Regions from separate parts of the Homo sapiens genome. Here region 2 is linked to region 1. Evidence: fine-mapped expression QTL. Tissue or cell type: whole blood. Region 1 holds a variant in brackets; the other region holds the start of a gene. All regions are shown on one strand. Distances are from middle to middle.

What was found. PIP is the estimated chance that this variant, and not a neighbour inherited with it, causes the effect.
Region 2: ACTG1 starts here. The variant in region 1 is fine-mapped to the expression of ACTG1 in whole blood (TOPMed, PIP 0.93).

The regions. Positions count from the first base shown.
Region 1 is chr17:81,477,743-81,485,857 of GRCh38, reverse strand. LINC01971 (long intergenic non-protein coding RNA 1971) reads left to right here and starts at 4,392. Exons shown (of 2, transcript NR_184097.1): 1 at 4,392-4,676; 2 at 4,933-5,333. RefSeq lists a silencer at 1,111-1,520, a cis regulatory region at 878-1,675 and an enhancer at 1,579-2,229. The variant A/C (reference allele first, on the strand shown) is at 3,835.
Region 2 is chr17:81,510,271-81,516,827 of GRCh38, reverse strand. It overlaps ACTG1 (actin gamma 1), which reads left to right and starts at 4,029. Exons shown (of 6, transcript NM_001614.5): 1 at 4,029-4,094; 2 at 4,468-4,596; 3 at 4,686-4,925; 4 at 5,202-5,640; 5 at 5,720-5,901; 6 at 5,995-6,557. The coding sequence starts at 4,474. The coding sequence ends at 6,138. It also overlaps a transcript of FSCN2 not described here. RefSeq lists enhancers at 374-423, 1,158-1,781, 2,924-2,973, 3,004-3,283, 4,494-4,583 and 1 more and silencers at 1,544-1,593, 1,664-2,383, 2,604-2,793, 3,424-3,903, 4,104-4,273.

The DNA of each region.
Region 1 (8,115 bases):
CTTGGGAGGCTGAGGCAGGAGAATCCCTTGAACTCGAGAGGTGGAGGTTGCAGTGAGCCAAGATCACACCACTGCACTCTAGCCTGGGCAACAGAGCAAGACTCAGCCTCAAAAAAGAAAAAAAAAATGTAACTTGCCCAAACTAGGCCGGGCGTGGTGGCTCACGCCTGTAATCCCAGCACTTTGGGAGGCCGAGGCGGGTGGATCATGAGGTCAGGAGATCGAGATCATCCTGGCCAACACGGTGAAACCCCATCTCTACTAAAAATACGAAAATTAGCTGGGCGTGGTGGCGGGCACCTGTAGTCCCATCTATTCGGGAGGCTGAGACAGGAGAATGGCGTGAACTCGGGAGGCGGAGCTTGCCGTGAGCAGAGTTTGCGCCACTGCACTCCAGCCTGAGTGACAGAGTGAGACTCTGTCTCAAAAAAAAAAAAAAAAAAATTTAGCCAGGTGTGGTGGCATGTGTCTGTAGTCCCAGCCACTTGGGAGGCTGAGGTGGGAGCGTGGCTTGAGCCAGGGAGGTTGAGTCTGCCATGAGCCATGGTGGTGCAAATGCACTCCAGCCTGGGCCACAGAGCAAGACCCTGCCTTGAAAAAAAAATTTTTTTAAAATTTATAGCTGTAATTTCGGAAGCAGTGTGTGCACTGATGCCTGCTCCAAGCATGCTCTTGGTCTGGATGCGGCAGGATTTCAGTTCCAGGAAGCAGCTATTCTCTGCGCTAGAAGGCCGCTTCTCCCCAACAGAAAGGGCAGCAATGCTTCACCAGGTGTGTGCCTAACAGTTCTCAATCCCACTGGGAGAGCTGCGAGGGAAGTATGGCTCATTCGGAATGGACACACACAGGCGGCTCCAGTACAGAGAGGGGCTCTAGGCCCTGAAATGCTGTGCTCCTCGCAGGACACACAACTCCACGTGACGGGGATAACACGCGACACAGCTCCTGCATCGATGCTCCCCAGTTCCTGCCTGGCTGCTCCCCCAGCTCCTGCCTAGGTTCTCCCCTATCTCCTGGCCTTATGCTCCCCAGTTCCTGCCTTTGTGCTCCCCCAGCACCCCCAACCCAGAGTGCTCCTTCCCTCTGGCCAGGCCCCCTTCCCAGCCCCGCCCCTTCGGGGCTCAGGCGGGAACCGAGCTGGCTTTTTCCTCCCAACCAGAGCAGCTCCCTCTGGTTCCCAGGTTGCCTGCCCTTCCAGCTGGGAACACCGGCCTTGCAGGGAGGGGCGGGGGTGCTCACCACGAGGCGGCCACACAGGGCGCGAAGGGGTCCCAAGGCCCACCCAGGAGGAGCGCCTGTCTTTCCGTGGCGGGCTGCGCGCGCTGCCCACGCGGCCACGCTTGGAGCCTGGCAGGAGGCCGCCATCCCGGCCACGGCCGCTGGAGGGCGCCCCCGCACCGCTCCTGCCTGCCGGTTCCCGCGGGAGGGCGCCTGTGGCGGGCGCCGGAGGTTGATCTGCTGGTTCACGCCAGGATTGCGAACCGGCGGCCGGAGCGGGAGGCCGCAGAGCCGAGTTCAGGTCGCAGTCCTGACCCACCTGGCGGCGACTTCCTGTCCCGCGGCTGTGCTGCAGCTCTCCAGGTTGGGGTGAAAATGCAGAAACGGTCCCGTGGGCTAAGTCACGGACGTTCGTTTCTCACAGCGCCGCGTGCCTGCCTGCAGGCAACCGAGCCACGCACGCCGAGGCCGCCCCACCGCCCGGGGCCTGAACGCGCCGGCCCAGACCGGCAGCCCCCTCGGATCCTAAGACCTCTGCACCGCAGCGCAGGTGTGGGGGTCCTCAGCCGGCGCCATCCAAGCAAGAGCCGAGAGCGCGAGCGCCACGCCTTCCCCCACCCTCTGCCCTGCGCCCCTGGCTGGCGGTCCCTCCTGCAGCGGCTGGCCTGGAATTCGGGCTGCGGAAGGGGCTGCACCCACGCGGGGCTCACGCCATGGATGTGGGCGCTGGGAGGGTCTCCGGCTGTTTCCTGGTGCTGCCCAAGAAGCAGGTCCCTCGGCCAAACCAGCCCCTGTTCTGGTGCCCGCCGGTGCCCTCAGCCTGCGGGCCTAGAGGCCAGAGTGCTGGCGGATGGGCAGGTCCTGACCACGCCGTCCTCCCTGGGAGCTTACTGGTGAGACGCTCGTCTGCCTCAGGGGGCCCAATAATGGTCACTTGACATAAAGGGACAGAGGTGGTCTGTCCAGGGTGACGGTGACCACTGTCCTGGCATGTGACGGAGCCCAGGCCCTGGGCAAGCGCCATGCTGAGAGGGGCTGGCCGCCCGCTGCCGGTGGCCTGACTCAAGAAACCTCGCTCCCCTGAGCGGCAGCTGGAGGAGAGGCAGCGGCAGTGGACCTCTGGGGACGGATTGGAGGGGTGGCCCTGCGGCCCTTGCTTGGGCAGGAGGGACGCTGCAGCAGCTGCTGGAGCTCCCAGGCAGGGGCTGTCCCTCGGTCAGCTGGGTCACAGAGCAGCCGGCGCCTGCGTCATTCTCAGCCTGCCCGAGGGGGAGGCTTCCGCTCCAGGTGGGTGACCCGGGGCCCTTGCTATTACCCCCACAATGTTTCCTCTTTCCTCTCTGCCTCCTCCAGCCTCCCTAGGCAGCCTCCTCTCTTTCTCTGCTGGAGCCTCCCAGCTTCCGGAGGCCTCCTTGTGAGAGCAATAAAATGTCTTTGAAAGGAGGCTGGGATGTCCAAAGGGTCATCACAGGGCTGGGGGCTGAGAAGCCCAGAGGTGGCTGGGTAGGAGACACAGGCCTTGGCGTGCTTTCAGGGGACACACAACAGGGACAGTCCCCACTGACTTTCCTCCCACTCCCCCTCCACTAACTCACCTCCCTCTTGTCAACACGGGGGGTCTCCTGCCCTGGAACATTCAGGGAAAGAGGTGCGTCTGAACCCCGCCTGGGGAGACAGACGCCCTCAGGCTGTCCTCTTGGCTCCGCTCCCCTCTTTCCTCCTGTTCACCGCTCCCAGCCACCCCGATGGGGCCTGTTTAATTGATTCAATTTGTTCAACAGTAAAAACACTCCACAGATGTCAGCCTCCCAGCACCCCACCCCTGGGGAGCCGCAGACACCTGCCAAGCCTCTGGGGCTGGGAGTCCTTCCATGGGCCACTAACACCAGGATCTGGGGGAGGCCTCTGGGCCTGGGAGCTCGCGTGGGTGCCCCCGCTCACCAGACCAGAGCAGCCACTTCAGCCCAGGGACTGCTCCGTGAATGGCACCAGTGGCGTTCTGAACAGTGATCTGATGCAAATATGTCCTTCTGAAGGATTTAATGTTTTTAGACTCCCAGGTCTGGGAGGATGACCTTGGAGATGAGGTCAAGCTACCATCCCAGGCTCAGGCCACTCACTGTCAGGGTCCCACCTTCTTCATCAACCTGGGCTCGGGGGGTTTTCCAGGTAATCAGTGCTGGGAGGGGGACTGAGGGCTCCCAGGGTCCTGATCCTGTCCCCTGCAGGGGAGAGGCCCCTCGCCTACAGATTGGGAGCCCTGCATCCACAGCTTCAGCGCGGTGGCCCGTCCTACTCCCAGGGATGTGTGTGGCCACAGCCACGCTGGGAGATGCTCTCAGGTGTTGTCTAAGGGAAGACGTGGGCCTGGAGGTCAGGAGACCCAGGCTGAACCCCTGACGCCCCTGCCCGGACCACAGCCCTCTCTCCCTGTGAAGGTCCCTGGTCCCTGGGGCCACCACTTTCCACCCCAGAGGGAGGCCCCTGCGATTGATTGGTTGGCTGAGTGACTGAAGCGGGGGACGGTTTAGGGGAGCATTTGCACAGCTGGCCAGGCTGTGACTGTGGGGGCCTCTGCCCACCCCCATCCAGCCCCACCTTGGACGAAGACGCCCC[A/C]GCCGTGATTAGGAGAAGGCTCACCCTGAAAACGGTCTCAGGTTAGAGTTACCAGGACATCTGCCTCTCCAGCTTGGGGGTCTCTCACGTGCCCCTCTCAGGCAAGATCGGGCCTATCATTGGCTTAGGTTTTAGGAAGGTCCCAAGCTCATTTGCCAAGGGCTGAGCTTCCCCATAACTCCCAGGACACAGGGAGAAGACAAGGGGAGGGAAACTGAGGGACGGAGATGAAAGCGCTCGTCCCAGCGAAGGACCCGCGCTTCAGGCGCTGGGCCCTGGCGGCAGTGAACAAGCTGGGGGTGGGGCGTCGGGCCGCGCCCCCGCCCTCCGGACCCCCAGCGCGGACCCCTGCTCCGGGGCGGGGGCGCTCACAGTCGCGCGAACCCGGAGGTGCGGAGAGAACAAAAGGGGTCCCGCCCCCTCCCCCGGGCCGGCCCGCCGCAGCCAATCGGCGCGGCCGCTATCGCCTCCGCTCTCTGATTGGCTGTGCGGCGGCCAATCGGGTGAGGGGGCCGCCAGCCCGTGCGGCCCCACGTGGGGCGGCGCGAGGGGCTGTTAGAGGACCGCAGCGGGCGGGGCGCGTGGTTCGATCGCGCGCTACGCGCCTCGGGGACGCGGTCCGCGCCACCCCCAGCCGTCCCTGCCGTCCCGAGGCCCCCAGCGAGCGGCGCCGTGGCTTCGGGCGCGCGGGGCTCGGGGCCATCGCCGGGTGCTGTGCGGTTCCCGGCTCGGAGGCGCTGGGCCGGCGTCGCGGCTGCCCCCTGCCCACGCGGGAGGGAAGCGAGCGGCGCTCAGGGACCAGGAGCGAAGGCCTTGCCACCTGGCGAGGCGGGGAGGCCAAGGTGGGCTGTGGAAGGAAGAGGCGGGCCTGCCGCTGGTGGTGGTGGGATCAATTCATTCATTCATTGAGTCCGTCATTGACACCTCCTACTCCAGGGCCCTCGGGACACAGACAGCGGTGGCCTCAGCGGAGGCTTGGGGGCTAGCCTCCCCCTAGTTTCCATTAGTCTCCCCTCCAAACTACTTCAAGTGGAACGTACAAGCATGTTTTTTGATATGGGCAATTGACACAGTCTTACATTTTTATGGCACCCTCAGACAGGGTATTTGAGGAGAATTGAATAAATGGAAAATACGTGAATTAAAGGAGAGCTGTGCAGTACCCAGGGCCAGCAACAAAGGGGAGCTGTTACCCCCTGAGACCTGGAGGGCAGCTGGAGCCACAGGAGAGGCCGTCTCCAGGAGCCCTGACCTTGGAGAGGGACACAGCGACCCGGCAGGGAGGAGCTGCTGCTGTACACTGACCTCACCCCTCCTGACCGCTTGGCTTGTCTACCGGCTACGCATTGGCTGAACTAGGTGGAGGCCAGGGAGCAACGAGGCCCCATGGATCCTGTACCTACAGTCAGCTTCCCGGGGCACAGAGCAGGGGCTGGCATGGGGCAATGGGAAGATGTCCAGCACCTGTTTTGAAGTGTGAATAAAAGCATCGTAGAAAATGTTGCTGTTTTGCTTTGTTTTGTGGATGTGTAGCCCATGCAGAGGCAGCCTAAGATGGGGCACGACCAGGCTGGGCCCCGCCTCTTGCAGATCCACTAGGAGCCACCCCAGAGCCAAGGGGACCTTCCTTGGAGGGTTTCCCATCCTGAAAGTGATGAGTCACAAAACGAGGCAGGACTGAGGACGAGGAATGCCCCGTGTCAGCGCACGTGCACGGTGTTGTTCAGGCCCTCTTCCTGGGGGTCCTCCTGGATGCTCCAATGCTTGCCCATCTTGGCAGCTGTCACAAGCCACTGCTGGGACTGTAATTCCCCAGGGCAGGGACTGATCCTGTTTGCTGTTGCCCCTTCATGGGGCCTGTATCTGGAAGGAGGATGAATCTGCCCGTGTGAGGCCTGAGATGGGGGCTTCCCTCTGAGGCAGGGGACATGTATTCACTCATCAAACCTTCTCAGGGGAGCCTTTGTCTGCCAGGTTGGGCTTAGCCCCAGGAGCCCAAGGAAGAAAGGATGTAGTTCAGACTTGGAGACATGTGTGACCCAACACTGCAGCCATGCACAAGTTCCTGATAAGGTGGCTCGGGCCCAGGTCCCCTGAGAGGCTCAGGAGGGGGAGGACTCTTGGATAATGAGGAGAGAGGGGGTGGCACTTGAGGTGGCTTTGAAGGGCAAGGAGGAGTAGGAGTGGTGGAGAAGCTGAAGAAAAGCAGGGGGCAAGGAGGTGCCACCATGGGGATCAGGGACGTGGCATCCGGGGGAGTGTGGCTGTGCACAGCTGGGCCTCTGCCGCAGGCATCAGGAGGCTGGGGCGAGGCACCCCTGTCCCTGGCTTCTCCGCCTGTGGTATGGCGATGATGATAGGGTTGTTGGGCAGGGTGAGGGGATGTAGGTGACGTGCAGCACACTGTCTTGGTAATTACAGGCTCGATAAATATACATGAGCTGTCATTATAAGCATTTGTTGCAGTTGAGGAGGTGGTGGTGGGCTTGGCTGGAGTGAGCTGCCTGTGGGGGGCTGTGAGGTTAGTGCGAGGATGGCCGTCTTTCAGGGACATGGAGGCTGCCTCTCGTTCCTGCAGCGCATGTGGCAGACATCACTAATCCATCAGCCACTCTCTCCCACGGAGCCCAGCGGTGGCCTCGGGCCCTCAGATCATTCTCCAGGCAGCCCCTGCTAATCAACCACAGCTGGCACACAGATGGCCCTGCCTGCCATCTCCAATTCCACCGACATCAAAAACTGGGATCCGGGCTGGGGGTGGTGGATCATGCCTGTAATCCCAACACTTTGGGAGGCCAAGGTGGGCGGACTGCTTGAGCCCAAGGAGGAAGAAGCTGCAGTAAGCCGTGACTGCGCCACTGCATTCCACCCTGGGGAATAGAGGGAGTCCGTCTCAAAAAATAAAATAAAAGGCCGGGCGCGGTGGCTCACGCCTGTAATCCCAGCACTTTGGGAGGCTGAGGCAGGTGGATCACGAGGTCAGGAGATCCAGACCATCCTGTCTAACACGGTGAAACCCCATCTCTATTAAAAATACAAAAGATTAGCCGGGCGTGGTGGCGGGTGCCTGTAGTCCCAGCTACTCGGGAGGCTGAGGCGGGAGAATGGCGTGAACCCGGAAGGCAGAGCTTGCAGTGAGCCGAGATCGTGCCACTGCACTCCAGCCTGGGCAACAGAGTGAGACTCTGTTTCCAAAAAAATAAAAAAATAAAAAAAAAGTGAAGTAGGTGCACCAATCTTTTTTTTTTTTGAGACAGAGTTTTGCTCTGTCGCCCAGGCTAGAGTGCAGTGGCACAATCTCGGCTCACTGCAAGCTCTGCCTCCCGGGTTCACCCTATTCTCCCGCCTCAGCCTCCCGAGTAGCTGGGACCACAGGCACCCGCCACCGCGCCCAGCTAATCTTTTTTTGTATTTTTAGTAGAGATGGGGTTTCACTGTGTTAGCCAGGATGGTCTGGATCTCCTGACCTCGTGATCTGCCTGCCTCGGCCTCCCAAAGTGCTGGGATTACAGGCGTGAGCCACCGCGCCTGGCCAGGTGCACCAATCTTAAGCTGCAGATCACTGGACTTTCACATTCGTGCACATCCGTGCAACCGCCAGCCCGGTCCAGAGAACTCCCAGCCCTTAGAGGCTCCCTCGTGCCCCCTCCCATGCAAGCCCAGGAGCGCTCTGCCACCCATCCCGGAGACTGCTCTGCCTGATCCTTAGTCCGCGCCAGCAGAGCTGTACAGCCGTCCTCTCCGAGGCTGGCGCCTTCACGCCACACAATGCTGCCCGTGCTCACTGCATTGCTGCGTCCTGCGTGTGTCTGTGGTTGTTCTCTTGCGTTGCTGTGTTGTAGTCCATTGTATGGATGTAACACTTTATCTACCAAGTCTCTTGTTGACAGACATTTAGATTATCTCCAAAGTCTGTGAATAGTGTTGCTACAAACATTCTAGTGTGTGTCTCCTTGTGCCCGACAGTGGGGGTTTCTGGTGGATGTTAGCAGACACTGCTAGCTCTGCAAGCCACTGTCCTGACCGCTGCTCCCACCCGCAGTGTGGGTGGGTTCTGATTGCCCCACATGGTGCCAGCACTGGGGACTGTCTGTCCTTTCCTATAGGCCAATCGGGGGGTGGGGGAGACACTCTACCTCTCCATCCTTCTGATGCCCCTGTGGATGGGAGACTTACTGGGGGGCCTGTGCCCCCACACAGCCACCAGCAAGCGCTGGGGCCGCTCCTGGAACACCAGCCTCAGTTCCTTCCTCATGTTTGAAACCCAAGTTCAGAAAATGA
Region 2 (6,557 bases), 32 kb before region 1:
GGGACCAAACAAGCAGCACCTGGCCACTCACAGCCAGCTGCCCAGTGACTCCGCAGGGGTGGGGTGGGGGGCAGCCAGCTGAGCCTTCTGAGCTTCAGTCTGCGCAGTGGGGCAGGAGAACCAAGCCCCAAGCTGGGCACCAGCCAGGAGACAGAAGTGTGGGACCCTGGCCTTGTCCCTTGAGCCAAAACTCAGAGGCAGCCAGGCCGAGTTGCAGGAAACCAGCCTTGCCCACCGGGACCAGCCTTGGGACCACTGTTCCTGAAGAGGCAGAGCCCACTCCAGACCTGCCCAAGGGAGCCAGCCAGGCCCTGGAAAGAGCTTCAGGAAACAGGGCCATCACCTTGCATTTCATCTGTCCAAAAGGGTGTGGGAGAAGAGGGAGGTGGGCTGAGAGTAGGGAAGCTTTGCTTGCCTTGGATTCAAGTTAGCTTTTTATTATGGGAGAACTTTAAACTTACAGAAAAGTTGCAAAGACAGTGGGAAGGTTTCCCAATGCTCTATTCCCAGTGTCCCCTAACCTGGCATCTTACACGGTCATGGGACAACTGCCATAACTGAGAGATTAACCTTGATACTTACGGCCAAACTCAAGGCTGTGGGCTTTGCTAGTTCTTCCACCACTGTTCCTTTTTCTGTTCAGGGTCCATCGTTTCATTTAGTGGTGGAAGATGAGACACTCCAGGCTGGGTGAGGTGGCTCACGCCTGTAATCCCAGCACTTTGGAAGGCCTAGGCGAGTGGATCACTTAAGGTCAGGAGTTCAGGCCAGCCTGGCCAACATGGTGAAACCCTGTCTCCACCAAAAATGCAAAAATTAGCCAGGCATGGTGGTGCACGCCTGTAGTCTCAGCTACTCGGGAGGCTAAGGCCCGAGAATCGCTTGAACCCCGGAGACAGAGGTTGCAGCGAGCCAAGATCGCGCCACTGCGCTCCAGCCTGGGCGACAATGAGACTGTCTCAAAAATACAATAAAATAAAATATAAAGAAAAAGTAGACATTCCAGGCAGGTAGAGTGACAGAGGCAAAGGCTAGGGGTGGGGACCCATGCCCACGCCCCCATGTCTGTCTGACAAGTAGCCGGCCAGGTGGTTGGCGGTGGGGACTGGGGGGCCCTGTCAACTGGTGTGGAGGTGACCCAGAGTCCGGGGGCTGATCCGGTGCAGAGGGAGGAACAGGGCAAGGAGCTGGAGGTGGGGCAGTGCAGGCCGTGGAGGGCGCAGGCCCTGGGTTAAGCCTCAGCTCTGCCATACCTCCCTGGGCCACTGTTGTCGTATCCACTAAATGGGCCGAAACTAAAATAAGACATAACAAGGTCATGATAAAAAGCCATCAAAACCAGCACTGAACTAGAAAAGAAAAATCACATCGCTTCTCCAGGCCCCAAGTCTCCCTTCCTGAAATGTGAAGGACACACCCACCTCTGGCGGAAGTGCAGCTGCCGACTCTCCCGGCTCCGGAGGCCGCCCAGCTACCCCCAGCTCCATCCATGCGGTCCCCTCCCCAGGCCCAGCTGCCCGGCCCTCTCCGGCACTGGTTCCAGAAGGGTGGCGGCTGCCCTGCGCCACTGGCTTCCCAGAGCATATCCAGGACAGGCCCCGCGCGACCTTGGGCGAGGCCCCGCTGCTAAACAGAAAAATCACAGCGCGCGGTCCAGCCCCCTGCGCCCCGCGGGCTCCAGGCCTCGCCCTGCCCGCCCGCCCGCATCCCAGGGACAGGCAGACCCGCATCCCCGCCGCCGTCGGTCCCGGGACTCCCCAGGCTCCGAGGCCCCCCACGCCCGGCTCCCGCCCCGACCCCTCGGAGGCGCCGGGCCACTCCTACGCCCCGAGGCTGCCCGGCCGCCGCCCCTCTGTCCCGCGCGCCAATCGGCGGCCTCCTTGACTAAATAAGGCCAGGAGCGCCGGGCGGGCGCCCCCCGTCCGTTACTTCCGCCCCCCGCCCGCCGTGACTCAGGCCCGGCGGCGGGCGGGGATGGCGCTGCCCCGGGCCGGGCTTCCCGGCGGAGGCGGGCGGGGCTCCGGCGGCGCCGAAGTCGCCAAATATGGCCGCGCCACCGCCCCCCGCCGCGTACCTGGGCCACACCTTGACCCCTGCCGCGTGACGCGGCCGCGGAGGAGGAAGTCGCTCTCCACCCCCGGCCCGCGGCGGCGTCCCCTCCCCGCCCCTCCCCGCGGCTCAGGCCCTGCGGGTGGCGGGGAACCCGGGGGTCTCGAGGCGCCAGCCTCGCCCCCGCCCCCACGACCCTGGCGGCCTCGGGTCCGCAACGTGGGGAAGAAAGGTGGGGGACGGGGACGCGCGCCCGGGGCCGGCACCTCCCCGCACTTCCTAGACAAAGAAGCTTCGGAGGAGACCAGAGACCCGGAGGGGCAGGGTCCCCGGCCGGCCCGGAGCAGAACGTAGTGTGGGGTGAACGCAGGATGGAGGGGCTTGTGGCTATTCCCCACCCGCCTCGTGTCCCTCGGTGTGTGACGTCGCATCTTGGGACCCCCCAAGTGGAAGTCCTCACCCGGGGGTCGAGCAGGCTGTGTGGTTCTGCCCAGGGACGCGAGTCCGGGTGGGTCTGTTGGAGGCCCAGCCCCGGCTTCGCCACGGGAGGGAACATACCTGACAGCCTTGCCCGGGCCCCCGGAGATTCTGGGCCTGGGGGCGCTCAGCACCCCTGGGAGGCCTGGGGCACGGGGGCCTTAGGCACGGGTCTCGGCGTCCGGGCTGACTGCAGCCCGCAGGTGAGCTGGGCCGGCCGCCTTGCCCTGACTCGCTGTTGTCACTCCCAAACACGGGGTCGCGAGCTAACGTTGCAGGGCCCCGGACTCCGCGTGGGGACCCCGGCCCCGCCCCCCAGCCTGTCGAGTCAATCTGAACGCTCTGCGACCTCGGGCGAGTCCGTCCCCTCACTGCGCGGCCTCACTGCCACCCCTACGCGGCCGGCGCTCCAACCCTGAAAATTCCAGCAGCGCACAAGGAAACCGTAGTGCCGGGCGCCTCTCGGGGTGTAACCAAAGCACCGGCGCCGCTCCTGGCGAGGAGTGAGCGCCCTGGACAAGCCTGTGGCTAAACCCACGCCAGCCCTGATCGCTGCTCTTAACTAGCATCGTAAACAGAAGAGGGTATCCCCCCGACCGCCCGAAGCTGGGGAGCCGACCTTCAAAAAAGTCAGGGCTCCCATTGTCTACCTCAGTTTCCCTATAATGTCTACAGGTGACCAGAATGAAACAAAGGCCTCACTCCACACCACCTTCTCAGCACATAAGGGGGCGGGGTAGCCCCAACCCGGAGCGCGCGCCTGGGGACAATCAGGCCTGTGATTTGAGGGGCAGGGATGTGTCGGGTCGGGTAGAAAGGGGCCTCGGTCTTCAAACGAACGGAGATCCGGGGCAGGGCGCCCCGTGGAGGGACCTGCATGGTGGTGGCTGCGCTTGGGGACGGGCGGGCTGTTTCCTATGGTGACCGGGGCGAGGTGAGGGCTCCTGAGAGCTCCCCCGCGCCCAGGGACGCAGAGCGTCGCGGACCCCCGCCGCGCCCCTTCCTCAGCCCGGCACTGGCGCCCGAGATCCTCGTGGAGCCCGAGGGGAAAGATTGCAAGGGACGTCCCAGGGAGCAAAGCCCCGCAGCGTGGCCGGGGACTCGGGGACCCACCCCAGCTCCGGCGCGGCCCCGCCCCGGGTCAGGCAGTTTCGGGGCGCAGCAGGGCCCTCCCCACGGCGCGGCAGTCCCGGGGAGGGGCCAGGCCCGTCAGCCCTTCGGCCCTCCCGGCGACCCTCGGAGGGCGCCCCAACTCAGACCCGCCCGCCGGCCCGCGCAGGGTCGCGAGCGCGCGGGGGTGGCGCGGGCGGGGCCGTTGGGAGGCGGTGCGGGCTGGGGGCGGGGCGGGCCGGGGCCCCACGTGTCCCTGCCCGGCGGGCCAATGGGTGCCCGGCTTTCGGAAAGATCGCCATATATGGACATGTTCTGGGGCCGCGCGCGCCGCCGGGCCGCGCGGGCGCGCCGCTTCCGCTTAAATAACGGCGGGGGAGGCCGCGGTCGGTCTCAGTCGCCGCTGCCAGCTCTCGCACTCTGTTCTTCCGCCGCTCCGCCGTCGCGTTTCTCTGCCGGTGAGCGCCCCGCCCCGGGGCCTGAGCTGGACGTCGCAGGCCTGCGCCCCCCGACCCCGGCTGGCCCCGCTTCCAGCTGCCGAGGCCTCGTCGCGCCTTCCCCGGGAACAAAAGGCGGGGTGGGCCGGGTCAGGCGGACGGGGCTGGGGGGGCGCCGGGGGTCCAGGGCGGGGCCCGGCCGCAGTGCAGACTTCCGAGCCGTGGACGTTACGTAAAAGGCCCGGCCTTCGGTTCCAGGCGGTTGCGATCTTGGAGGCCACGGCCGCTGGGGTTGGGGCAGGGCCGAGGCTTCCCCGCGGGAGGGCATTAGGTGGCTGTGGGGAGGGGACCGTGTTACAGACGCGCCCGCCTGAGTCCATCCTTTTCCGGGCAGGTCGCAATGGAAGAAGAGATCGCCGCGCTGGTCATTGACAATGGCTCCGGCATGTGCAAAGCTGGTTTTGCTGGGGACGACGCTCCCCGAGCCGTGTTTCCTTCCATCGTCGGGCGCCCCAGACACCAGGTGAGTGGATGGCGCCGCGGGGCTCCTGGGTTCTGCGTTGCGGGGTGGGTTCGGTGTCGCCGGCGAGGCTGACGGGTCGTCCCCTGCAGGGCGTCATGGTGGGCATGGGCCAGAAGGACTCCTACGTGGGCGACGAGGCCCAGAGCAAGCGTGGCATCCTGACCCTGAAGTACCCCATTGAGCATGGCATCGTCACCAACTGGGACGACATGGAGAAGATCTGGCACCACACCTTCTACAACGAGCTGCGCGTGGCCCCGGAGGAGCACCCAGTGCTGCTGACCGAGGCCCCCCTGAACCCCAAGGCCAACAGAGAGAAGATGACTCAGGTGAGGCTCGGCCGACGCCCGTGCTCCTCCCGTCCTTTCCCCAGTCATTTTCTGCCCGGCTTGATTTCTGACATTTAAGTGTTTCTTTCGCTGTTCCAGGCTCTGTTCCTCTCCCGGCATTTCCTCCCTGAAGCCTCCAGGTTTCTCATTTGGTTTCTGCCTGCGTTCTTTTCTTTTCTCCACACATCACACTGGCATGCAGCATGTTGTGGCGTGTGAGCATGGGGTGGCCGTGGGTCTCTGTCCCTGACTAAGCCGCCCCTTGTCCCTTCTCAGATTATGTTTGAGACCTTCAACACCCCGGCCATGTACGTGGCCATCCAGGCCGTGCTGTCCCTCTACGCCTCTGGGCGCACCACTGGCATTGTCATGGACTCTGGAGACGGGGTCACCCACACGGTGCCCATCTACGAGGGCTACGCCCTCCCCCACGCCATCCTGCGTCTGGACCTGGCTGGCCGGGACCTGACCGACTACCTCATGAAGATCCTCACTGAGCGAGGCTACAGCTTCACCACCACGGCCGAGCGGGAAATCGTGCGCGACATCAAGGAGAAGCTGTGCTACGTCGCCCTGGACTTCGAGCAGGAGATGGCCACCGCCGCATCCTCCTCTTCTCTGGAGAAGAGCTACGAGCTGCCCGATGGCCAGGTCATCACCATTGGCAATGAGCGGTTCCGGTGTCCGGAGGCGCTGTTCCAGCCTTCCTTCCTGGGTAGGTGTTGTGAGCTAAAGGTTTCTACTCTTACATCCTCGGTGACACAGCATCACTAAGGGAGGGCTCTGTCCCCTAGGTATGGAATCTTGCGGCATCCACGAGACCACCTTCAACTCCATCATGAAGTGTGACGTGGACATCCGCAAAGACCTGTACGCCAACACGGTGCTGTCGGGCGGCACCACCATGTACCCGGGCATTGCCGACAGGATGCAGAAGGAGATCACCGCCCTGGCGCCCAGCACCATGAAGATCAAGGTGAGTCGAGGGGTTGGTGGCCCTCTGCCTGGCTCGGGAGAGCTGACTGGGGGGCGCTCTGTGAGCTGAAGCCGTGCCTGGCTGTCTTTGCAGATCATCGCACCCCCAGAGCGCAAGTACTCGGTGTGGATCGGTGGCTCCATCCTGGCCTCACTGTCCACCTTCCAGCAGATGTGGATTAGCAAGCAGGAGTACGACGAGTCGGGCCCCTCCATCGTCCACCGCAAATGCTTCTAAACGGACTCAGCAGATGCGTAGCATTTGCTGCATGGGTTAATTGAGAATAGAAATTTGCCCCTGGCAAATGCACACACCTCATGCTAGCCTCACGAAACTGGAATAAGCCTTCGAAAAGAAATTGTCCTTGAAGCTTGTATCTGATATCAGCACTGGATTGTAGAACTTGTTGCTGATTTTGACCTTGTATTGAAGTTAACTGTTCCCCTTGGTATTTGTTTAATACCCTGTACATATCTTTGAGTTCAACCTTTAGTACGTGTGGCTTGGTCACTTCGTGGCTAAGGTAAGAACGTGCTTGTGGAAGACAAGTCTGTGGCTTGGTGAGTCTGTGTGGCCAGCAGCCTCTGATCTGTGCAGGGTATTAACGTGTCAGGGCTGAGTGTTCTGGGATTTCTCTAGAGGCTGGCAAGAACCAG